2 linked regions of the Homo sapiens genome follow. The protein of the gene in region 2 interacts with the protein of the main gene of each other region in a pairwise test. Each region holds a gene or a part of one and is shown on either strand. Other genes may lie near its edges.

Region 1 (6,681 bases), on a different chromosome or scaffold from region 2:
TTGATAGAAATAGCATTGAATCTGTAAATTGCTATGGGCAGTTATGGCCATTTTAATGATATTGATTCTTTAAGAAGATATTAGAGTGCCTATGATATACCAACAACTGTAGTGAGCCCTGGGAACCAAACATGAAAAGATTTGGACACTTACTCTCAAGGAACTTTCAGCCTAATTGTTGCAATATACCTGAGTCATGGAGTCTGAGAGTCTTGCCTTCCACATCCCCAACAAGGTAAGTTGGCTAATTATCAGGCCTTTGTATTTCAGAATGGGAAACCTATCTAAGCTTAAGAACAAACCCTAAAGGAATTTTTGAGGAAGTGGTGTGGTGGAGAAGAGAGAAATGAGACCAGGCAATGGGAATCCAGGAGAGAAAATGGGAAAGAGAGCTTAAAAATGTCCTTAGGAGGTTCAAGTTTTTCCGTGCCTGTGTGAGGTAACTCACTCCGTGGACACCCTCCCCACCTCCAACCATTCTTCTGTAAAATTTATATTTCTTGCTAACACTCTTGGAGTTGGGGTTATTTAGAGTTTATTTGAACAACTATCTTAAACATATAATTATAACACATTTATTTGACATTTATAGAGCTCTAATTGTGTGCAAGGAACTGTGCAAGATGCTAGGGCAACAGCAGTCAACAAAGGAGACACATAGTCCTAGCCTCATGGAAGGTACAGCCAAGCAGGGGTGACACATGGTAGGTCAGTGCTGGGAAAGACAAACATGGTATGCTGAGGACATGGAACAATCAAGGGCATCCAGGCAGAGGCTGAGTGGAGGAGGAGTTTGCAAGGCTGTGCCAAGAACATTTTTCAGGGTAGAATCTACCCCCCAGGCAGAGATGTGGGGAATAAAGACCAAAATGGAAACAGCACTGGCCAAGTCTGAGAGCCACGTGAAAATAGCACAGCACACTTAGGGATCTGGGGATTTGGGATTGCTGGAGTCAAAGTGTTGAGTGTGAGGGGGTAGAAAAGCATAATTATATGTAGAGTCAGTGCCTGAACAGTTCAGTCAGAAAAGCACATTTTTCAGGCTAAGAAACTTGGCCTTGGTCCTGCTTAGGTTTTACAGACAAGAGATTGCCTTTCTGAAAGCTTACCCTGGAGACTGTGTAGCTAGATGATGGGCTGAGAGAAAAGGAGGAAGGTGGATATAAGAAAGCTCCTGCAAAAATGCAGGTGAAAAATGATGAGGACCTCCACTGGGGACGGGCAGGAGAGGGCAGATTTAAGGGATGTTTGGTGAAACTTTCAAGGGGAACTGCTGATGGACTGGCAAGAGGAATCCCAGCAGGATCAGGTGGCTATGCTCTGGACGGTTTGCATAACTGTCAGTGGCACCATTCACTTCACATTGTAGTTATAATCTCTGTCAACAGTGGCACCTGGAGATGTGCAGTACACAGCCTAGGCAATCTTACAGAGAAATCCTGACTCCAAACTCATCTGTTTCTATTACTTTTGAGCTTTGGAGGGATTTAAAGTTTTTCTTTCTCTTAGGGTTTTATTTAAGCCATTTTCTTTTGGAAAAATCTCAGCTAGCATCATAGAGTGCGGTAGGAAAGGAATGTAATTGGGAAATGATATTGTCTTATTTTTCTATATAATTTAGCCACCTTTACACTTAAGATGGCAGACACGGGAATTACATTTTTTTAATGGAGTTTCCCTCTTGTCACCCAGGCTGGAGTGCAGTGGTGTAATCTCGGCTCACTGCAACCTCCACCACCCAGGTTCAAGCAATTCTCCTGCCTCAGCCTCCCGAGTAGCTGGGATAACAGGCGTGCGCCACTACGGCCAGCTAATTTTTGTATTTTTAGTAGAGGCGGGGTTTTACCATGTTGACCAGGCTGGCCTCGAACTCCTAACCTCAGGTGATCCACCTGCCTCAGCCTCTCAAAGTGCTGGGATTACAGGTGTGAGCCACCGTGTCTGGCCAGGAGCTAAACAATTTGAGGTCAAGATGTGGCGTTAACAATGTTCCCACAGATCACAGAAACACAAGTGGACAGCAGAGGCCCTTCTTGCACTAGTACTTCTACCTGGATGGGGCCTCAGAGGTCTGACTTTCCACAGGAGAAGAAAATCTTTGAGAGCCAATTTTACTGCTGGGTGCTGATGTTTTCCTCAACTGTCTAAATAAATCTTCAGCTAATAAACATTTCAATAAATCTGTTCTGGTGCCTTCCATTCCTTAAACTATACAGCCAGAGAAGATGGAACATATGAGCTTGGATTCTGTCTCTGTAGCGGATGCAGGGATATAAGTGAGCTGAGTTTTACACATTCCAAAGGGGCCACTGATCAGGTACTTCGGGATGCACTCCAAGTGTCCTGGCTAATTAAGATAAACCAAAGATTAGAAGGCATTTCTGGCTGGGTGCAGTGGCTCACGCCTGTAATCCCAGCACTTTGGGAGGCGGAGGCAGGTGGATTACTAGGTCAGGAGTTCAAGACCAGCCTGGCCATGATGGTGAAACCCCGTCTCTACTAAAAATACAAAAATTAGCCGGGTGTGGTGGCAGGCACCTGTAATCCCAGCTACTCGGGAGGCTGAGGCAGAGAATTGCTTGAACCCAGGAGGCGGAGGTTGTAGTGAGCCCAGATCGTGCCACTGCACTCCAGCCTGGGTGACAGAGCAAGACTCTGTCTCAAAAAAGAAAAGGCATTTCTTACTCTATACACAAAGTCATGAACTCGTCGTTTTGAACAGCATAAATTTACATGAAATTTCAAAACTTTGCCCCTCCTTCCCCTTTCTCCCTTGCTGGCATGTAGCTGTTTTAGTTTGTTCTAGCAGAAGATAACTATGTGCCAAGAATCCAACTGGACACGGACTAAAATTACTTTCATCTTAGTGTGTACCTTGGAAGCGTAAAGCGATTTTTCCTTGGCAACCTTGCATGGTTAGTCCACACAAACTCCATCACTATGAACATGGGTCTTCCTTTAGAGGTGGCAAAAGCATCTGTCAGAATTTGGGGCAGGTATAGCTGGATAAAGCATATTGTAAACCTATAATTTAATGCAAACTGTCAAATTTTAAATTGGCTAAAATAGTTTTAGAAGGTATGCAAAAGATCAAGTAAAATATAAGCATGGTAAGGCACACGATAAATGGTTCCAGGGAATCAGAATCTAATACGAAGTTAAGTAAACTGAGTATTTTGATTAAGTTCAAGGTTGAGTAGGGAACGTCATCCATATTTTGGGAGAAGTCCTCCAATGTGAATATGAAATTATGCTATGCATGTGAGAACAACAGTTGTCATGAACTGAGTACTTCTCACATCAGGATTGTGCTTTGCCTGTGGGCCCAGGCTCAACATGTTAGATATCTCCATTTTATAGATTAAAAAAAAAAAAAACATGAGGCCACTGTCAGTGTCTACAAACAAGTAAGAGGCAGAGTTTCGATTAAATTCTAAATTTGTGATTCAAAAACCCAGGTTCTCTTTTACACACCTCATTCCTTCTTTGTAATTCCAGAGAGCTAAATAAGTCATGCCAGAACATTTTATTTTCTATGTGGCTGAGGTTCTACCCACTCAAGAAGGTAAAAATAATAGAAAAAGCTTTCTGATGAACACCTGTGGCACACACCTGTAATCCCAGCATCTTGGGAGGACGAGGCAGGTGGATCACTTGAGCCTAAGTGTTAGAGACCAGCCTGGGCAACATGGTGAAACCCCATCTCTACAAAAAATACACAAATTAGCCAGCTATGGAGGTGCACACCTGTGGGAGGATTGCCCAAGCCCAGGGAGGTCGAGGCTGCCATGAGCTTTGATTGTACCACTGTCCTCCAGCCTGAGTGCCAAAGTGAGATCCTGTCTCAAAAAATAGAAAGGGGAAAAAAAAGTTTTCTAAGATTGTATTATGCAATTCCTCACCTCCTCCAGTATGTTACAGTGAATATTTAATAACCTTTTCCTGGAAACTCATCCTTCACATGGATGACTGGACCACACCATAAATGAGGCGATGCTCCCAGGGTCTGTGGTGGGGAGGCTATTGGTACACACAGTGGTACTTTTCCAGTTTGCTTGACAGAATATGATTTTGATTCTTCCCCTGGCTGCTGTTCATGTGTTTGAAGTCCCTTTATTTATTTATTTATTTATTTGAGACGGAGTATGGCTCTGTTGGCCAGGCTGGAGTGAAGTGGCATGATCTCGTCTCACTGCAACCTCCACCCCCCAGGTTACAGCGATTCTCCTGCCTCAGCCTCCTGAGTAGCTGAAATTATAGGCACGAACCACCACGCCCAGCCAATTTTTTAATATTTTTAGTAGAGACGGGATTTTGCCATGTTGGCCAGGCTGGTCTTGAACTCCTGACCTCAGGTGATACACTTGCCTCAGCCTCCCAAAGTGCTGGGATTACAGGCATGAGCCACTGTGCCAGGCCCCTTTTCTTTCCTTAAATGGGGATCTCCCACTGCCTTGGGAACGAGATAATCAAACCAATTAGAGCTATATGTAAAATGAAAGTAAAATAGGCCTGAAGGGCTGGCCCACAAGGACCCCATAAGAGCCCAGATTCCTTAACTTCCACTTTCATGTCAGAGCAGCCCCACTGCATACCTCTTTTGTGCTGTGTCCCAGATAAAGGAGTACATCATGTCACCGAGTTCTAAGTAAGTGGGGTGCACTGAAACTTTCAGTAGAAGCAAGATGCAAACACATACAAACATGTATGATGTTATTTATTTTCTCACTGGCACTGGCCTACTGCACTTAAACATTTCCATCAGACTCAAAAAATAATTTTATTTCAGAAAAAATATTTTACCTATTTAGCTTTTGTTTATACTGTTTTATTATTAATAGGTTTTTTTTTCTTTTTTTAAGAGATAGGATCTTGCTGTGTTGCCCAGGCTGATCTCCAATTCCTGGCTTCAAGCAATCCTCCTGTCTCAGCCTCCTGTGCAGCTGGGACTATAGGTATATGCCACTGCTCCCAGCTTGACTTAATGGAATGTGTTTTTATTCACCCATTGGAAAAGCCTTTGCTACATATTAATACAAACTTCTCATTAATAAACCCTCCTTTTTTTTTTTTTTGAGACGGAGTCTCGCTCTGTCGCTCAGGTACGATCTCGACTCACTGTAACCTCCTCCGCCTGGGGTCAAGCAATTCTCCCGTCTCAGCCTCCTGAGTACCTGGGATTACAGGTGCACGCCACCATGCCCAGCCACTAATAAATCCTTCTTTAAGTAAGAAAATAATATAACATGAGCATAACTTTGCATGAATTTTAATGTCCTGGAGGCTTGTTGCTTTGTATAAAGTGCAGGTCAGTAAAAATTAAAATGAGGTAATGTGGTATAATACGATTAACCCAGTAAGGGTACAATAAAGGATGGCTATTATTATTATTATATTGTTATTATTATTTTGAGACAGAGTTTTGCTCAGTCACCCAGGTTACAGTGCAATGGCACGATCTCGGCTCACTGCAACCTCCACCTCTGGGTTCAAGCGATTCTTCCGCTTCAGCCTCCCAAGTAGCTGGGATTACAGGCACCTGCCATCATGCCCGGCTAATTTTTTGTATTTTTAGTAGAGACGGGGTTTCATCATGTTGGCCAGGCTGGTCTTGAACTCCTGACCTCAGGTGATCCACCCACCTTGGCCTCCAAAAGTGCTGGGATTACAGGTGTGAGCCACCGCGCCAGGCCAAGGATGGCTATTATTTTCACATGAATTCAACTGAAATCACGATAGGGCAACACCAATAACAATGTTTCCTATATAGCTTAAAAACTGTTCTTTGTCATCCCCTCATCTACCCAATAGGGAATTAGAACTAGCCTGTTAGGTTGCTTGACAGGACCACTGAATGCTGGGAATCAACCATACTCTATTCTCTCATTTAACAGATGGGGAAGCAGAGGTCCAGGGAATTTGGGAAACTTGTCCACAAAGGGACAACTACTTTGTGGCTGAACTATGTCTAGGACCAGGGCTCTCTTTATCAACATGAGTATCTCCTTCCTTTATCTGCCCCTTCATGTTTACAAGGCACCTCCTCAGCTCCATGATTTTGTTTGTTACGCTACATCACTCAGCTCATGAAAACGGCTTTTTTTCCTCTTTTCTTGTCTTTGGAAGATTTTTTGCATTCTTGTAGCAGCTGATTCCATACTAACCTTTAAATTGAAAAAATATATATACACACAGACACGTATGTGAATATGTGGGAGAAACAGCACTAGGTCTCCCTGGACAACCCAGTGCAGGCCACACCTTGGCAGTCACAGAGCACAAATAAGAAATGATCTTCCCGTGTGAGTTGCTTTCGACACTTCAATGCTAAAGAGCTCAGAAGTGCTTACACTTTGAAAGAAGCCTGAAAACATTTGTAGGCTACCCTTTAATGTGTCTCATTTGGAGATAGAACAGTGAGCAGGTTGACCAGCTGCTCTTCATGTACTTCTTGCAGTAAATCCTTCAAAGAATGAAGAGTGAAGACAATTCATTTTCCCTCCTGGAATTTTTCCTTCTTATTATTTTGCTTTTTTAAAGGTTGTTATATTCAGGTATAGGCATAAGACATTATAAAAGATAAGGGGTATCATGTGAGGGAGGAAATCCGACAATCCAAAAAATCTTCCATAGAAATTAAAAATCAGAACTTGGGGGCAAGGTAGGAGGCAACACATTCTT
Region 2 (9,216 bases):
TGTGAAGGCCCCCTCTGTGTCCGGCAGGTAGGTGGAGGGCACAACCTTGTAGGTGCCCGCAGGCAGGAGGCAGAGCCGGCTCACCTCCTGGGCGTAGCGATGTGGCACGCAGCTCAGCAGCGGCTCCTGCAGCAGCAGTGGGGGTGCGTCCTGGCTCCTTCCACCCTCTGGGACCTGAGGAAAGCGCAGGCTCAGACTGAGGGGGCCAGCCTTGGGGTAGGGAGCCCAGCCCAGGGCCATCTGCTCGGATGCCCTTGGCCCTCTTGAGTCACATACAGCCCCTTCTCTGAGGAGGGGCTGCCAGGCCTGGACACTGGACTCGCCTCCTCACCAAGGCCTGGCCACCCTTGCCAGAAGGTGCCGGCAGTGGGGCCCCCGCCTGGAGGCCTGTCACATCATCAGGGGCTTTAACACCTGTGACTGCCCAGCCCGCCCCAAGGGCTCCCACTGGCCCTGGCATGTGTTTTCCTCAGAGCTCTAGGGGACCTGAGCCGGTGGCCCAGGGCAAACAGCGAGGGTCCAAGGGTCCCCAGGCAGCCCACTGTGAACCGAGGGTTGCAGTGCCTTCCTCGTCAGGGCCCCTGCATTCCAGGGGACACATGTCTGCAGAGAATGAACCTTGGGACACAGTCATTCTGAGTCAGGGTAAGTGGACAAGGGGCTGCTGGCTGAGCTCAGTGACTGTGGACTTCCTCACACCCGAGGGGCTGCTGTGGCCAGCCAGCCTGGGCCTCCCCTCCTCTCACTCCTGAGTCCATCAGCCCCCTGCGTTCCCAAGCCAGGGCTCGACCCACCCCCGCTGGTCTCAACCTCGGCCTCCTGTCCTCTCCAAACTTCTCCCTTCCTCCCCACTCACCACCTCCTCTGGAAACCTGCCCTGCCTGGATCAGCCCTGCCCACCTCCCAGGCCCCCGGCCCTTCCAGAGGCCATCTTCGGCCTTGCCTCTGAGAGGTTGGAGATGGGAGAGGGCCCTGTGCGGGTTCTAGGCAGCGCCTCGAAGGGCAGGGGGAGCCCAAGTGACTGAGCCCAGAGCCCTCTGTTGGGACAATGGAGGCCAAGATGCAAATTCTCTGAGGGCCCCTTCTGCTCCCCCTCCCTCCCTGGGGCAAGGAGCTTGCCTGGAAGATATGGAAGCCGATGGGGTGGAACTCGGTGTCACTGGGCCGGCAGTGCTGATGCAGAGTGATGCGGACGCAGCGGGGGCCAGGGCCCTCGGGGACCGAGAAGGGGAAGCAGGGGTTGGTGGGGTATGAGGCAAAGTTCCTGCTGCCCCCCGCCGTCTGGCCGACTCTCCAAGAACCCCGTAGCTGCACGGTCCCCCACTCCCCCGCAGGCAGGGCTGCCCCGGGGGTGGTGTTCTTGGCCACTGCCCTGATGGCGCTGCCAAGAAGACAAACATGGGAGGGCGCTGGCAGCAGGTTCCCGGTGGCCTCAGTTCCCACATGGACACCTGCCAACCACAGAGGGAAAGTGCCCAAATCCTGCCTTGGAAGGGCCTGTGGCCTCGGAGAGCCAGCAGCACTGCGCGGTTCCTCTCACCTAAGGGAGACTCGCCCGGTAGAGAAGACTCGGAGCAGGAACTCCCCTGGCGCGTCCTTCAGGAAGGTGCTGGGGACAGCCAGGTAGTAGCCCGGTGAGAGCTCACAACGCAGGTGGACCTCCCGGTCGTATGCATGGCACGCGGTGCCAGCCACGGGGGGCATGGACAGGACCCTAGGCAGATTGACCCGCCGCTTCTCTACCTGTGAGCACGTGCAGGAGGCTCAGTGTGGAGGAGCGGCCGGGGTCAGACGCCCTGGCCTTGACCTCCCTGCTGCAAGCACAAGGGCCTCTGGAGTTGACAGATGAAAGCGCCAAGGCCTGTCAGCACCCTCCACCCTCTCTCAGGGACCAGCTAGAGATGCCCACCAATCCCGGGCTTCACTTGGCCCTGGCGCCAGTATCTGTCCCAGACACGAGCCTGCAAGTCCTCCTTGTAGCTGGGCCCACAAAGGCACCGTGGCCCAGGCAACCTGGGGGCTGCTGGACAGTGGGCCTTCCAGCAACTTCTTTTGCAAGAGGAAAGGAACATCATGTGGGCCACATCCATGAAGGGACAGGGAACAGTGTGGTGCCAAGTGTCACACCCTGTCAAGACACACAAGATGAAAACCCAGCCCCTGAGCGAGCAGCCGGCATATCCTCGACCCACACTCAGGCCCTTTGCCCTCAGGCGCCCCCATCTGTTCTTCCTGGAAACAACACACTTTGTGAACCAGTGGTTGAGCCTGGGACTGCCTGGGCCTCAGAGCAATCCCATGAGATCCGTGTCAGGACCCCGTCTTGCAGGGGAAGAGACTGAGGGAGGCAGGGAGAGGATGTGTGCCAGGTCACACAGCAAGCTGCAGAGCTGGGACTGGCCCTGACAGGTCCTCAGCCGCTGGCTCTACCTCCTTGCCTCAGAAAGGCACGGCGCTGCCAGGAGCCCCCCGGGTCCAGGCCCCTCCTGCGGGTCCTGCCCTGGCTGCAGACTCTGTTGCTTTCCTTTGGCCAATGAGGCACACGGCAAGGCAGAAAGACCTGCAGTCTCAGGTCAGAGCCGGGTCTGGGAGCACCAGCAGACGTCAACCCCGTGCAACAGCCCAAGGAGGGGGGAGACTGGTGGGGCCCGTGGCAGAGTCACATGTGTCCCGGCAGAGCCAGTCCTAGAACCCAGACCTCCATGGGCCTCCACACCACCTGCTGAACCGAGCGTGAGCCAGACGGGGCTGAGTTACCTTCCAGAGGTGCAGACCCACAGCCTGGTAGTGCTTGCCCGGGATGCTCGCTGGGCTCCACGAAGTATGACTGTCACCCACCAGTGCCCGGGCCCGGCCTGCCCAGTCCGCCGCGTGCAGCCTGGATCTCTGCAGGACGGCAATGTACACCTCACTCGGTTCTGAGACCCGCAGCCAGAATTTGGGGTTGCTGGGAAAGCCGCTGTTGTTCCGGCAGCCTCCTGCTGACTGGCCCTTGACCCAGGCCCCAGGCAGCGCCCGCGTATGGCAGAGCAGCCTCTCTAGTGAGAAAACACCAGGCATCAGCTGTGGGACACGGCTCCTCGCTGGCCTCCCGCCATGGTGGCCTCATGAACCCTGGCAGGGTCTAAGCAGCAGCTACGGCCACAGACAGAGCCAGCCCCTCCCACAAGCCCACCCTCCTCCCAGCTCCTGGGACAGAATCATCACCCTCCTCCCGGCTCCTGGGACAGAATCATCTCTCCACGCTGAAGAGAACCAAACTGGGCCTGGGCAGGGGGAACCCAGGCACCTGCCCAGCCTCCTCACTTCGGCAGGCAGAGCACGTGCCCAGCACAGCCCCTCGGGGCACTACCTGTGTAGAGGCTCTGCAGGTGGCCGGCCTCCGTGACCGGGTAGCCAACGGTGAGCTCGTCAAACTCCCTGAGGAACTCCTCCTCCTCCACCCAGAACTCCCCTTCCTGGAGCTGGGACAGGAGCTCAGATGCTACCGCTGCATCTACCTGGCTCCACCCTTCACCCCTGGAAGAAACCTCATCTCAGCAGAAGCCCCTCCCGAGAACTGGTAGTGTCAACTTGCCGGCAGGCTGGGGGGAAGCCTGGAGGGGACCCAGAGAGCCCTGAGTTCCTGCCAGCAACCCCGTGCCCCAGCTCTGCAGCCCCTCCCACACCCGAAGCAGCTCTGCAGCACAGGGCCTTCTGGGCAGCGGCCACCCTGGAGCCCTCTCTTTTCCCAGAGGAACTTCACGCCTCTGGATGCGTCTTCCCAGGACTGCTGCCCGAGCCCGTGATGATGTCTGCCCTATTGAAACCCCAGGCCCAATGGCCACCTTGGTCCCAGGCCTCACAAGGATTGCCTGGAGCCAAGACAAGCATGGTGTCACGAGAGCAGGGACTCAGGGGCCTTGCTGGAGACAGCCAAGTACAGTCCTGACAGCTGAAGGTGACCAGGACACAGGCCAGACTGGCACTGGGCCCCCCTCCCGACAGCAGCATGGTCCAGGCCCCAGCACTCACCCCTCTCTCCAGAGCCCCTGCCAGCACCGCCGGCCCCAGGGGTTCTGGATCCGCAGCAGCAGGATGCACTGGCCCGCCTGACCCTGGAGCTCCCGCAGGTCCGAGACAATGAAGGCATGGAACTCCCCCAGCTCCCGGGCACCTGCATGAGGAATGGCGCAGGCACAGGCAGGAAGGGCACCATGGAGTCCCAAACTGACAAGGACACACAGGCCTCTGCCTCCTCCTCTGGAGATGCTCCAGCCCACCCCACTATGGCTACACGGGAGACCCCAGATCCCCATGGACCACGAGAGCTCCTTTCTTAGCAGCTGTGACCCATCAGCTCAGGAGCATCTCCAGGAGCAAGCACACGGGGCCTGACTCGGCTGCCATCCGGGTCTGGTGCTGGGTAAGTCATCCCCTTCTCTAGGCCTCAGTCATCGTCCGTACCCATCTGTGCACGATGCCTGGCACAGCACCAGTTCTCAAACATGCTGCACAGATGCATCTGCAACTGCCAGAAATCTAGAGAGTGTTTCTCTTGGCAAAGCCTGCTAGAGGTAGGACATTCAGATAGTGCCCTGGCTAGAAGCCCACTGGAGGCATGGAGGCCCAGGGGGGCAACAGCTCCACCTGGCCAGAGACCTTGAGACAGATGGGCATAGAAAAGAAAGAGCCAAACAGAGAGGAAGGCCACATCTGTGGCGGGGCAACGGTCTAGAGAGGAGGGTCTCCTGGAAGGACTTCAGTCTCGCCCACGCCGCGGCCCCTTGCCACCTCAGCAGGCTCCAATGCACCTCCAGTCAGTGCCAGCTGCCATCTCTCTCTGCCTGGGGGCTTCCTCTAAAGCCTGAAGTGCTAGGACTTAGCGCTACCCCACCCTGGAGCACCCAAAACCAACAGCTCCCCGAGCTAATGCCCACCAGACCAGCGCCCTCACTCCCAGGTGGGAGGCTCTGAGGCCAGCGTCCTTCCTGGCACCCCAGCGGGGCTGGCGGGGAGTACACGCCCTCCAGGCTCTCTGAACCTCTCAACGTGCTCCTGAACCTCATCTCAGGGTCTGCTTATGGGGGACCCAGACCAAGGCCTATGACAACTTGTTTCAGTTTACTGTGATATTCATATTCTTTAACCCATATTTTTAAAATAATCCTAAGTATGAAAAAAATGATAAAGATGTTCATTGATACTGCTTATAATTATATAAAACCAGAGAGATCTTAATATCCAACATCAGGGGAATGATTAAGAGACTGTGGCAAACCCGCTCATGGGGCGAACATTTGACAGCGCGTGTGTGGCAGTGTGAGAAGCGGTGCGGAAGGGAACACGTAAACCGTGCGTGCTCATGGAAAACTGAGAGCGCACTCAAAAGTCACATGTGGTTCCATCTAAGTGATTTTTTTCCTTCATTTTTTGTAGAGATGAGATCTTGCCATGTTGCCCAGGCGGGTCTCTTGAACTCCTGGGCTCCAGCGATACTCCCACCTCAGCCTCCCAAAGTTCTGGGATTACAGGTGTGAGCCACCACACCTGGCCCCTTTCATTTTTTGGAGACAAACTGTTTTTAACGAATGTTATCTATCACTAAAATAAAAAACAGGTTTTGATTTTGCCAGGTTGCCAGCTGGGCCAGGGATGGCACAGACAGTGGGCTTTGACTCGGTGCCACCTCTTCCTGCCTCGCACTAGTGGAAAGGACTGGTCAGGGGAGAGAAGGGCCACGTCCCTCTGGAAGAGGACAGTAGGGGAAGGTCACAAACTGAGGACACCACCCTTGAGAACAAGCTTACTTCTTCCCACTTAGTCCTGACAGGGCTGTGTAGCCAGTCACATAAAAAGCTACAGTGTGCCTGAGGCCTGGCAGTGGGGGGCACGCTGGCTGCAGCCCTCCCATGCTGGCCACGTGCCTCACCTGCTCTGGGGCTGAGCACGCAGCAGCTGATCAGACACTGGTCCTTCAGGTGGAGCAGCTGCCGACAAGTCCTGTGCTCCCAGCGGCCTGGCCTGTCCTGCTGGCCTCCGCTTCCTGCTACGCCCTTCAGGTTCCATCTTTCTGCCAGGCCGCCGGTCAGGTCCACCAGGGCATCCGCCACCTGCCCGGCCCACAGGTGCTCGTAGGACCCATGGACCCTAGGGGACACAATCACCATGGGAGTGAGCCTCTGGCATTGAGCATGGCCCCCTCTCTGATTCCCATGGTCTGTAGCACCCCAAATCGTCCAACCGCTGCCTCAATCCCACCTCTTTACTCCCCTCTGCCTTCTTCCTCATCCTCACCAAGTCAAGGCTTAGCCTCACCTTCAAACGCCTTACTTCACAGCAAGCGTGAGCGCCCTGCAGTCCTCTGCCCACACACAGAAACTCTCTGGCATCCGGTGTGGGCACAGGAGCAGGGCAGGAGGCGTGGAAGCTATGGATGCCCACATCCCTTGGCTCTCAAGCTCCAACCCTGCTTTTCCTAAAACAGCCCTTGGGATGGAAGGGCTCACTGGGCACTGATGTCACCAGCCAGCCTTCCCATGTTCACCAGCTTCCCTGCCTGCCTGTCAGTCCAGTTGCCTTTGGCAAGAAGACAAATGCATTCTAAGAGGGAAGGCTATTCAATTATGACTCATGGTGAGGGTCCTGGTCCCCTGAGCCAGCAAGCACCGTGATACACAAGTGTTGGTATGCTGGGGTAGCCTCATTCCTCCCCAACGACTACACAATGAGTCTGCCTGTCCCAACCACTCCACAACAAATATAAAGAAGCATCTTTCTTGCTGGGGCCGATAAAATAAGGAGGACGGCACACATGTTCTCTGTGGAGAACGACTCCACGCTGGGCTTTGGAACAAGGGAAGGGAAAGCAGGGAGTGGGCAATCCACAGGCCCAAAAGAAGAATCTCTGCACCTGGCCTGTCAGCCTGACTCACAGAATGAGCTGCCAGACCCTCAGAACTGAAGGGGGCTCTGCAGCCCAGAGTGAGCAGAGACCCTCCTGGGGCAGCCCATGGTAGTGGCAGCTCCCACTTGCCCCAGGCCAGGCCCTTCAGCCCCCAGCACACGCACTTGGCGTAGACCTTTTCCAGTAAGGGGAGCCAGAACACATCCTCCCTCTGGCAGCGGGAGAAACAGAGTCTCCCTGCAAGGCACGGCAGGCGGTCATCTGTGGTCACCTCCACCCAGCGTCCAAACTGCCAAATGCGACAGGTGAAGGAGCCCCGGTACTCCTGGTCGGCCCAGCTCGGCTGTCCCGGAGGAATGACCTGCCATGCACAGGGAGAAGCAAAAGGCGAGCGTGATATAAGCACCACCCGGCGCTACTCCAGTGTCCCGGCCGCGGTGTGGCCACAGCTGAGTGCTCCACAGGCACCGCGGTCTGCAGAGAACTCTAACGCACACCTGGATGTCGCAGAGAACTCTACGGCACACCTGGATGTCGCAGAGAACTCTACGGCACACCTGGATGTCGCAGAGAACTCTACGGCACACCTGGATGTCGCAGAGAACTCTTCGGCACACCTGGATGTCGGCGCCTGCACAGGGCTGCATCACCCACATGAAATTAACAGACCTCTCATTGCAAAACTTGAGGACCACACCGAGGGAGCCACATATCCCGGGACACACTCTGCTGCCCTCACTAAAAGCATCTGACCTGAAGCCAAAACAAATGTGACATTCAAGGGCATGAGTGACCCAGTTCTTGACCGAGCTGGCTGCAAGCAACACGTCACCACAGGAACAGCAGCCCCTCCTGCTGCTGGGAGCCTGGCGCCCCGACACTGGGCCAGCTGCTTGCACCCACAGCGTCCACCGCAGGGCTCCTTCAGGGGTAAGCATTCTGACCCAGCATCGGGGGAGTGCAGGCTGGGCACCAGGCACCTGGTGCGGTCCTGGCTCTGCCACTTTACGGCCAGAAACACAATGGCAGTGATTTTAGCACTCTCGTTTAAAAAAAAAGTCAAAGCTGGTAAGACCATGTGTCTGAAAGCCAGTGACTGTGACACGCTTACCATGGGGCCTGGGACATGAGTGAAACTCTGAATGAGGTCACACTGTTGACGCCGCTGCATTAATCAGCAACACTTAGCAACAAGCCAAGCATAAAACGGTGAACACTCCCAGGTAAGGAAAACCTGAGAAGGCCTTCTCCTCCCAGAGTATCTGTCTACCCACAGAAACAGGTTTAATAACTTTTTGCAAACTTATATTCAAAACCTGTAAGAAAACCAGCGAGCTAGCTGAGGAGAGATCTGAGGCAGAGGCTGCCAGCCAGCCCCGTCCTCCTGTGAGCTGGCACATTTGTCTCTTTATTCTAAACGTGGTGATCTGACTCCATGGAGTCCGGGGGTCAGGAGAGCACAGAGCAGGGCGAACCTCCCTGATGGAGCCTTCTGGCGAGGCCAAGGCACCCCCCCCTGCAGCAGAGGGACAGAGTGCAGTCCTCAGCCTCTGCCTTGGAACTCTCCTGCCTTCCCCCAACACAGCAGGAGATCCGGCTGCGGCACAGCTCTGCTTTCGCAAGGCCTCCTGGTACTCAGCAGGCTGGAGAAACGCAAAAAGAAACCGGCTCCAGGACAAACACAGGGAAGGGGCCCCGCACCTGGTCCAGGAGGTGCCTGCTCTTCTGCAGCGCGGCGCAGGCACACAGGAACCAGCAATCCCCCAGCAGCCCCTGCTTCACCTGCCCTTCCCGTGGGTCATCTGGAAACAGCCGGGGTGTGGCACAAATCTCCTGAGATACAGAAAGTTGTCCAGAGTTAGATCATGCCTGCTGTGGAACCCTTCAAACTAAGAACCCAAGGCTCTAGATGACAGGAGTTGGGGTGGAGCTTTTCCGATCATCAGTGTTACCCAAAAAGGGACAGGAAGGTGGTTTCCTGCAGCGGGTGTCCTTCAGCTCCTGGCTTCAAATGCCTCTGTCCAGCTTAATTCTGGGGTGCCTTCCTTCCTTACTGGAAAAATCCCAAACTCTAGCAAGCTCCTTCTCAAAACAGCTAAATGTTGGCTTCGAAAAGTTTCACTTTTTACTCATGCTGGTAAATCTCAAATGTGTCCTCCATCCTGCTGGAAATCTGTTTCTCTAGCAGGCTCCATTTCCCACACCCCCTAACTATCATATACCTTCCCCTTTCTCCCCGTCTACTCAAAACATCCACACTGCCCTTGCCCACCCCTCTGAGCTTCGACCTTGCCTCCTGCTTCTGGACCTGACCCTCTCTCCTGCCCTCA

Evidence for each region. Proteins that work in one complex are often made in the same cells at the same time.
Region 1: the proteins of CAPN10 (region 2) and FXN interact in binary tests that used the Homo sapiens proteins (3 or more experiments, as listed by UniProt).

What each region holds. Positions count from the first base shown.
Region 1 is NC_000009.12:69,072,914-69,079,594, reverse strand, and holds the end of FXN (frataxin, mitochondrial isoform 1 preproprotein), read right to left. Parts: 3' UTR 519-6,681; downstream 1-518.
Region 2 is NC_000002.12:240,588,846-240,598,061, reverse strand, and holds part of CAPN10 (calpain-10), read right to left. Parts: intron 8,720-9,216; coding exon 8,588-8,719; intron 7,248-8,587; coding exon 7,051-7,247; intron 6,130-7,050; coding exon 5,912-6,129; intron 4,157-5,911; coding exon 4,015-4,156; intron 3,520-4,014; coding exon 3,353-3,519; intron 3,039-3,352; coding exon 2,758-3,038; intron 1,744-2,757; coding exon 1,541-1,743; intron 1,382-1,540; coding exon 1,120-1,381; intron 175-1,119; coding exon 1-174.